Linked DNA regions of Homo sapiens. The protein of the gene in region 2 purifies or fractionates together with the protein of the main gene of each other region. This does not show direct contact. Each region holds a gene or a part of one and is shown on either strand. Other genes may lie near its edges.

Region 1 (3,652 bases), on a different chromosome or scaffold from region 2:
CATGCCTGTAATCCCAGCACTTTGGGAGGCCGAGGCAGGTGGATCACTTGAGGCCAGGAAACCCCATCTCTACTAAAAATACAAAAATTAGCCAGGTGTGGTGGCACAAGCCTGTAGTCCCAACTACTTGGGAGGCTGAGGTGGAAGAATCACTTGAGCCTGGGAGGCGGAGGTTGCAGTGAGGCAAGATAGCACCACTGCACTCTAGCCTAGGTGATGGGAGTGAAACTCTGTCTCAAGAAAAAAAAGCTCACTATAGAGTGTTTTTAATTTCCAAACATTTGGCAGATGCCTCTGGTCCCTTGCTTTGAGGTGTGGCATGTGGACTGGTAGAATGGGCACCACCTGAGAACCTGTGAGAAATGCAGAGCTACAGGCCCCATCACATGGAAGCTGAGAAGCCTTGAGTTAGTCCATCCCCGGCCCTTGAAGGTAGCGACCCTGAACTTGACCTCCCCTGGGGCAGGCATCACAGCCTGTTCCCTTCAGTGTCACTTACAATGTCTGTCCCCAAGTCAATGAACAGAATGGTGATGGTGCCAATGGGCAGGGGGAGCCCGACAATGATGTAGATCAGAAAGGGGCACAGCTCGGCAATGTTCTTGGTCAGGGAATAAGCAATAGTCTTCTTGAGGTTGTCAAAGATCAGGCGACCTAGGCAGAGAGGTTTCTCCTTCAGAACTTACTTCTAGTCCCCCAGACCACCCTGGCCCTTGGGAAGACCCCCTGAGACTCACTCACCTTCCTCCACCCCTGTGACGATGGATGCGAAGTTGTCGTCCAGCAAGACCATGTCGGCTGCATTTTTGGCTGCATCAGAACCTGCTATCCCCATGGCAATCCCAATGTCTGCCTTCTTTAGAGCCGGAGAGTCATTAACTCCATCCCCGGTCACAGCAACAACAGCATCCTATGGCGGGGGACCCAGGGAGAAAGTGGGAGTGAGCAGGCCCAGTGGGTTGCAGGCCTGGCAAGAGCAACAAGACTTCCCTTTCTCTTGAGGTTGCGAGGATGATTATAGCTGAACGGAAAGGCCCATTTAGGGGAAAAGATAAAGATGAGAAATCTTAGAAGCAGGAACAAGGGTCTCCAAACAAGATACGTGCAAATGAGGAAAACCTAATGCGCAGGTGTCTTGTATCTTATGTCTTCACATTTTTTGTTTTAAATCTTTGCATTTTAAATCTCTCTTTACTCACAACTACCACAGTGGCAAATGCTTCACCGGGCTCTCATGACAAAATGCAGAGAGCTGGGGTGAGCCTTTCGGGGAACATGTGGTGGGGGTCTCAAAGGAGGACAGGGGCCAGCCCACCTGAGAGGTTGGAGAGGTCAGGTGATGGGGATGAGCCAAGAACTCTCTCTTGAAGTTTCAAAGGCACCACAGCCTGATGTGAGATCCAGACCTCTGCACTTGCCCATGGACAGTGATGGGCCTGTCAGTCCTCTGGACACTGCTGTCCACCCACCTGCCTCTGACAGCCCTCCACAATGATCAGCTTCTGCTGGGGGGATGTCCGGGCAAAGACAATCTCCTGGTAGTTGGCTAAGATCTCATCCAGCTGTTCTGAGCTCATGTCCTTCAGCTCCATGCCAGTCACCACAGCGGCCTTGGCATCCCTAGAAGGGCCAGAAGAAACTGGGTGAGGCCCAAGGGCAGATCTTAGGTTGAAACACTGTTCCAGGCAGGATGCTGGCTGAAGCCTCTCTGACTTGACCTGGAACCCAGTGTCCTTGATACCTAATGCTCTAGTGAGGTAACAGGAGTCCTGGGAACACTTTAGTCTCCATTTCAAGAGGGCAAACTGAGGCTAAAATATAACACCATTTCTTGGTACCATATAACAATAGGAATAAAAAACCAGGTAGCCTTATCCCTACTAGAACAGGTGAGAGTGGTACTTCCTAGAGCAACGCTTTACTTCAGAAGTAAAAGGAAGTTAAAAAACTGCCCATTCATGGCCAAACGCAGTGGCTCATGCCTGTAATCCCAGCACTGTGGGAGGCTGAGTAGGAGGATCACTTGAGGCCAAGAGTTCAAGACCAGCCTGGGCAACATAGTGAGAGCCCCTGTCTCTACAAAAAATTTTAAAAAATTAGCCAGGTATGGTGGCATGTGCCTGTGGTCCCAGCTACTCAGCAGGCTGAGGCAGGAGGATTGCTTGAGCCTGGGGGGTTGAGGCTGCAGTGAGCCATGATCATGCCACTACACTCAAGCCTGGGTGACAAAGTGAGACCCTGTCTCAAAAACAAAAATAAAAATAAAACCCCCAAACTGCCTGTTCATATGTTTTGGGTCCTAGAATTCTTTTATGGCCAAACAAGGGGTAATAATTACTTGCCGTTGGGTATTTCAGATTTACAGAGTGTCATCTTTGTGCAATGTGCTACGTAGGCAGAAGTTTACTGAAGTCTTTGAGCAGCGCTATTGCCTGCTGACTATAAAAGTAAGGTTCTAGGGCCTATTGATTATGCAGAGCTGCCTGAGCCAGTCCCCTGCTAAAACTCTTCAGGGGCTTTCCACCGTGCTTGGAGCAGACCCCGGAATCCCTAACTTTAGCCAGCGAGCCCAGGTGGGGCCTGCGTTGTCAAGCTTCGCCTCACCTTGGGCTCTCCCTCCTGCCCGCTGGATGCTCTCAGTTCTGACATCCTCCATCCCCTGTACCCTAAGGCCTTCACGGGTCTCGCTCCCTGACCAGGAATGGGCATCTCTCACCTCAGCTTCTCGTGGCTAACACTACATTTCAGCCTTCAAATCTCAGCTTAAACAATGTAGGTACAAACTGCTGCAGGTCTTTTTCTTTACAATTTGCAAGTTTTGAGCTTTCTAGGTCTGTTTTACCTCTTGGTGCTAAATACTGGAATTCTAGCACTTGACTCAAACTACAGGTCTCCTTAACCGCTGGCAAAAAAACAAAACAAAACAAAACAAAAGAAAGTAAGAGAAGAAAGAAGGGGTGTTTCCTTTCCCCTTACACCTGCTAAGATGCAATTTTTATATGGTCATGAAACTAGAGCTGATGAAGTGAATAACTGAAAACATTCACAAAAGCATCCACTTCACTCAGTGTGGTGATTTGTATACAAATGTGTAATCCACTCTTCCCTTTTGTGGCCATGAGCAGAGTGGCAGTGACCAAGAGGAAGTGCAGTCCCTTTGTGACTTTTGACTGAGGCAAGAATCATAAAAGTCATTTCAATGCACCTTCCCACATTCGTAGGAAGATTATGTCTTTCTCTCGTTCCAAAGAGCTGAGACAGAAGCACATTCTGGAGTCTGCTACAAGCACAGTTCCATCCATGCCCATCTGAAAGGATGAGGAAGTTGAGGTTGCACAAAGACACTATACGGGCCAGCAAATTGGCAAAGCAGTCCAGGTTTATAGGAAGAAATGTGCCACCTATACTGAACAGGAGCACAGGAGGAGGCTAAGGGCAGGACCGTCGTGTGCACGTCACCAGCACATGGCCATCACCAGGCTAAAACTAGACAAAGACCACAAAAGATCCTTGAATGGAAGGCCAAACAAATCTTCCTAAGTAGGGAAGGAAGGGCAAATATAAAAAAGAAGCAATTGAGAAGATGCAGGAATAAGGTATCTTATATACAACTTTCATTAAAAATTGCTAAAATGGGCCAGGCGCAGTGGCT
Region 2 (3,652 bases):
AACACTCCATTTCTTTTAAGTCACTAAACAAATTATTTATTAAGGTCAACCTTTTAAAAAAACTTACCCAATTTCACATATTTTGAGAATTCTCTAAGGCACATCTGACCTCTAATAATAAAGACAATTGCTACTTCTATTACTCATAAAAGTACTAGTACAACTTTGCTCCTCCTTAGTCACCACTGCTATGTTAAAGACATCTATACTTCTCTAGTTTATACTTGTTCCCTTCCACACTGTGCAACAGTAAATGTTAACATTCCCAATCATCACCAATATTTATCATGCACCTACTATATGTAGAAACACCGTGCAGTAGGATACAAAGAAATATCTGCCATCAGACCTTACAAACAAGCTGAAGAGAGAAAATGCTCTTATGTTAATGCGCAGATAGCTCTACTCTTTAAAAGTGGTTGTCTTCCCCCTAGCCAACATTGTCATTATTTAATTCTGAAAAGATTATTTTCAAGTGTGAAATGTCCTCCATATAGACTGACAGTTTCCCATTGTCAGAAACTAAGGCCAATATGTAAGCAAATTATAACAGAGTCTGTAATAAGAGCTACCTTAAATAACTGATGATAAAGCCTCTGAATACCAAAATTGTGTACTGAAAATGTCTAAGATTCCCCCCACACATTTTGAAGAAATTTTAGCTCCATTTTAAAATTTGTTCTAGGTCAAAAATTCATGTGTTTTTAAATGGAATATAATTTTCCCCACAAGCTGCATTTGTATAGTAACACTGCAATGAAATCTGCAATAAATTATAAAATATTTATTAAAAATACCCAGAAAGAATAATGCCCAGATAAAAAATATTAAACATTTTTAAAGACTTACCTCATCACAGTCTCCCTCAACCATGGCATATATAGCTTTCTTAACCAAGTTAGTACCTAGAATATAGATCTGAGTATTAATGAAGGAAAAATGTATTTCTTAAAGATAACCTAAATTATAATATTCGTAAGCACAGAAATGTCAAATGCTAGTTTCTATCTTGAATCCAGATACACGGATTACCTCAAATTAAATGGGAAAAATTTTAGCTATAAGCTAAGAGAAGCCAACAGAACCTATACATAACAGTATGTTTCCTCTTGAAAGACCTATCTCCCAATATACTCCTTTTTCTCAGACATAATTATTTGCCACAAGCAGGAGTTTGTTCTATTGTGTTTGAAAGCAGTAGGAAAGCGAAAGAGAAAAAGACAAGATATGGTATGGCCAGAACAACGCAGGAACTCCCCGTGAGTTGGCCAGAACTTACTGCATAACCCAAGCTGATCTCACCAAAGATCCTTCAAACTCCCCTGGACACAAGGGACAAGACAACCTCATCAGAACTGCTGTTACCCACAGTAGGTTCCTATAAACTTTACAGTGAGCACGATGAAGTCTGGCAAGTCTGGCACTCCCAATGATGTCAGTGGTGTGTCTGTACATGTCTAGCAAAATGTATCCTAGTTTAGGGTCAAATATAATTGGTATATTAAAAGGGAAAAAATTTGCCAAATCTGATTTTAAGAGCAGACAGACAAATTTTATTTAAAAACTCTTAGGCTGGGCGCAGTGGTTCACGCCTGTAATCCCAGCACTTTGGGAAGCCAAGGCAGGTGGATCACTTGAGGCCAAGAGTTCAAGACCAGCCTGGCCAACATGGTGAAACCCCGTCTCTATTAAAAATACAAAAAATTGGCCAGGCGTGGTGGCTCACGCCTGTAATCCCAGCATTTTGGAGGCTGAGGTCATGGCAAAACCCCATCTCTACTAAAAATACAAAAAACTGGCTGGGTGCAGTGGCTCAGCCTATAATCCCAGCACTTTGGGAGGCCAAGGTGGGCGGATCACCGGAGGTCAGGAGTTCAAGACCAGCCTGGCCAACATGACGAAACCCCATCTCTACTAAAAAATAAAAAATTAGCCAGGCATTACAGGTGGAGGGTGCCTGTAATCCCAGCTACTTGGGAGGCGGAGGCAGGAAAATCACTTGAACACAGGAGGCGGAGGTTGCAGTGAGTCGAGATCATGCCACTGCGCTCCAACCTGGGCGACAGAGTGAGACTATCTCAAAAAAAAATAATAATAAAAAAAATAAATCAGCTGGGTGTGGTGGTGTGTGCCTGTAGTCCCAGGTGCTTGGGAGGCTGAGGCACAAGAATTGCTTGAATCTAGGTGCTAGAGGTTGCAGTGAGCCGGGATCACACCACTGCACTCCAGCCTGGGCAATACAGCGAAGCTCTGTCTCAAAAAATAATAAAATTAAATTAAAAACTCTTAATTTTCAAGCCATGCATACAAGTATGCACGCATTTTATGGCCCAAACAAAGTATGTCTGAAGGCCAGGATGCAACCCAAAAGCCACTGGTTTCTGCCCTCCAAACTAGCCAAACAATTGGCTATAATTTATCATGAGTCCTTATCAGTGCTTTTTAATGCATCAAAGGCTCAAACTTAGTCCATAAAACAAGCCCAATTCATTAAAAATCTTAGTGGAAAGCTGTAACACTGCAATAAAGTTGGCTAAACCTAACATATTAAGTAAACCTATTTATAGTTACTTCTCATGATACCTAGGACCGTGTGTGAGTCTTAGGTTGGACAATAACACTTAATAGTTTTTAAAAAACATGAAAGTGAAAAAACTAATGATTAAATACTGGTACAGGTATTAAACTTTTTTTTATGAATACTCAGCTAAAGCACATCACAAAATTTGACATGCTTAGACAAATGCTTGTCTACCCAATTCTCCACTGTGAACAAAGAGCCACTAGGTCCTAGAGAATAGAAGAGTGGTTTTTTGAAACGGAGTCTTGCTCTGTCACCCAGGCTAGAGTGCAGTGGCACGCTCACTGCAACCTCCACCTCCCAGGTTCAATCAATTCTCCTGCCTCAGCCTCCTGAGTAGCTGGGATGACAGGTGCCCACCACCACTCCCAGCTAATTTTTGTATTTTTAGTAGAGACAGGGTTTCGCCATCTTGCCCAGGCTGGTCTTGAACTCCTGACCTAGTGACTCACCTGCCTTGGCCTCCCAAAATGCTGGGATTATAGGCGTGAGCCACCGCACCCGGCACCTGGTGGCCTATTGAGTTTTATGGCGTTATTTAAATGACAAAAGTTATCTAACCCAGCCATAGAAGAGTGGTTCTTAATCAGGCTTACATCACAGTCACCTAGGGAAGCTTCAGCCCCACCTCTGACAAGACAAACAAGAGTCTCAGGGTGAGGGGCCCAAATACATGTTTTTAAACCACCCACATGATTCTAATGATCATTATAAATCATGAGTGTTAAGATTAACTAAACATGTCAGGAAAAGTAGACCCAACAAAAAATTAAGTTTGGGAATTACAAGAAACAATCAATTCTCATCTCCTGATCTTTCCTGAATTGCAATATATAGTTGATGACTAGCACCAAGTAATGGTAACAATTTGTCCATAATTTTGGCTTGATTGAGGTCCACTTAACCCAAATACAGACAAGTGCTTGAAGGCTGGCATGAAGGACCATCATAATGTAATTATAAATTGCAGTATTTCTTGTGGTACTTAGCATAATGCAAAGCATTTTGAATGTGATTAAAAAAATCTGCAGGTGAAAGCTGATGATCGGCTACTTGTTAAAACGAAAAACT

The links.
Region 1: the proteins of NAA30 (region 2) and ATP12A purify together in Homo sapiens (affinity purification with mass spectrometry; one large-scale study listed by BioGRID and IntAct). This does not show direct contact.

Annotation. Positions count from the first base shown.
Region 1 is NC_000013.11:24,704,281-24,707,932, reverse strand, and holds part of ATP12A (potassium-transporting ATPase alpha chain 2), read right to left. Parts: intron 1,621-3,652; coding exon 1,470-1,620; intron 911-1,469; coding exon 742-910; intron 655-741; coding exon 500-654; intron 1-499. UniProt on the Homo sapiens protein: The catalytic subunit of a H(+)/K(+) ATPase and/or Na(+)/K(+) ATPase pump which transports K(+) ions in exchange for Na(+) and/or H(+) ions across the apical membrane of epithelial cells.
Region 2 is NC_000014.9:57,397,081-57,400,732, reverse strand, and holds part of NAA30 (N-alpha-acetyltransferase 30), read right to left. Parts: intron 906-3,652; coding exon 850-905; intron 1-849. UniProt on the Homo sapiens protein: Catalytic subunit of the N-terminal acetyltransferase C (NatC) complex. Catalyzes acetylation of the N-terminal methionine residues of peptides beginning with Met-Leu-Ala and Met-Leu-Gly.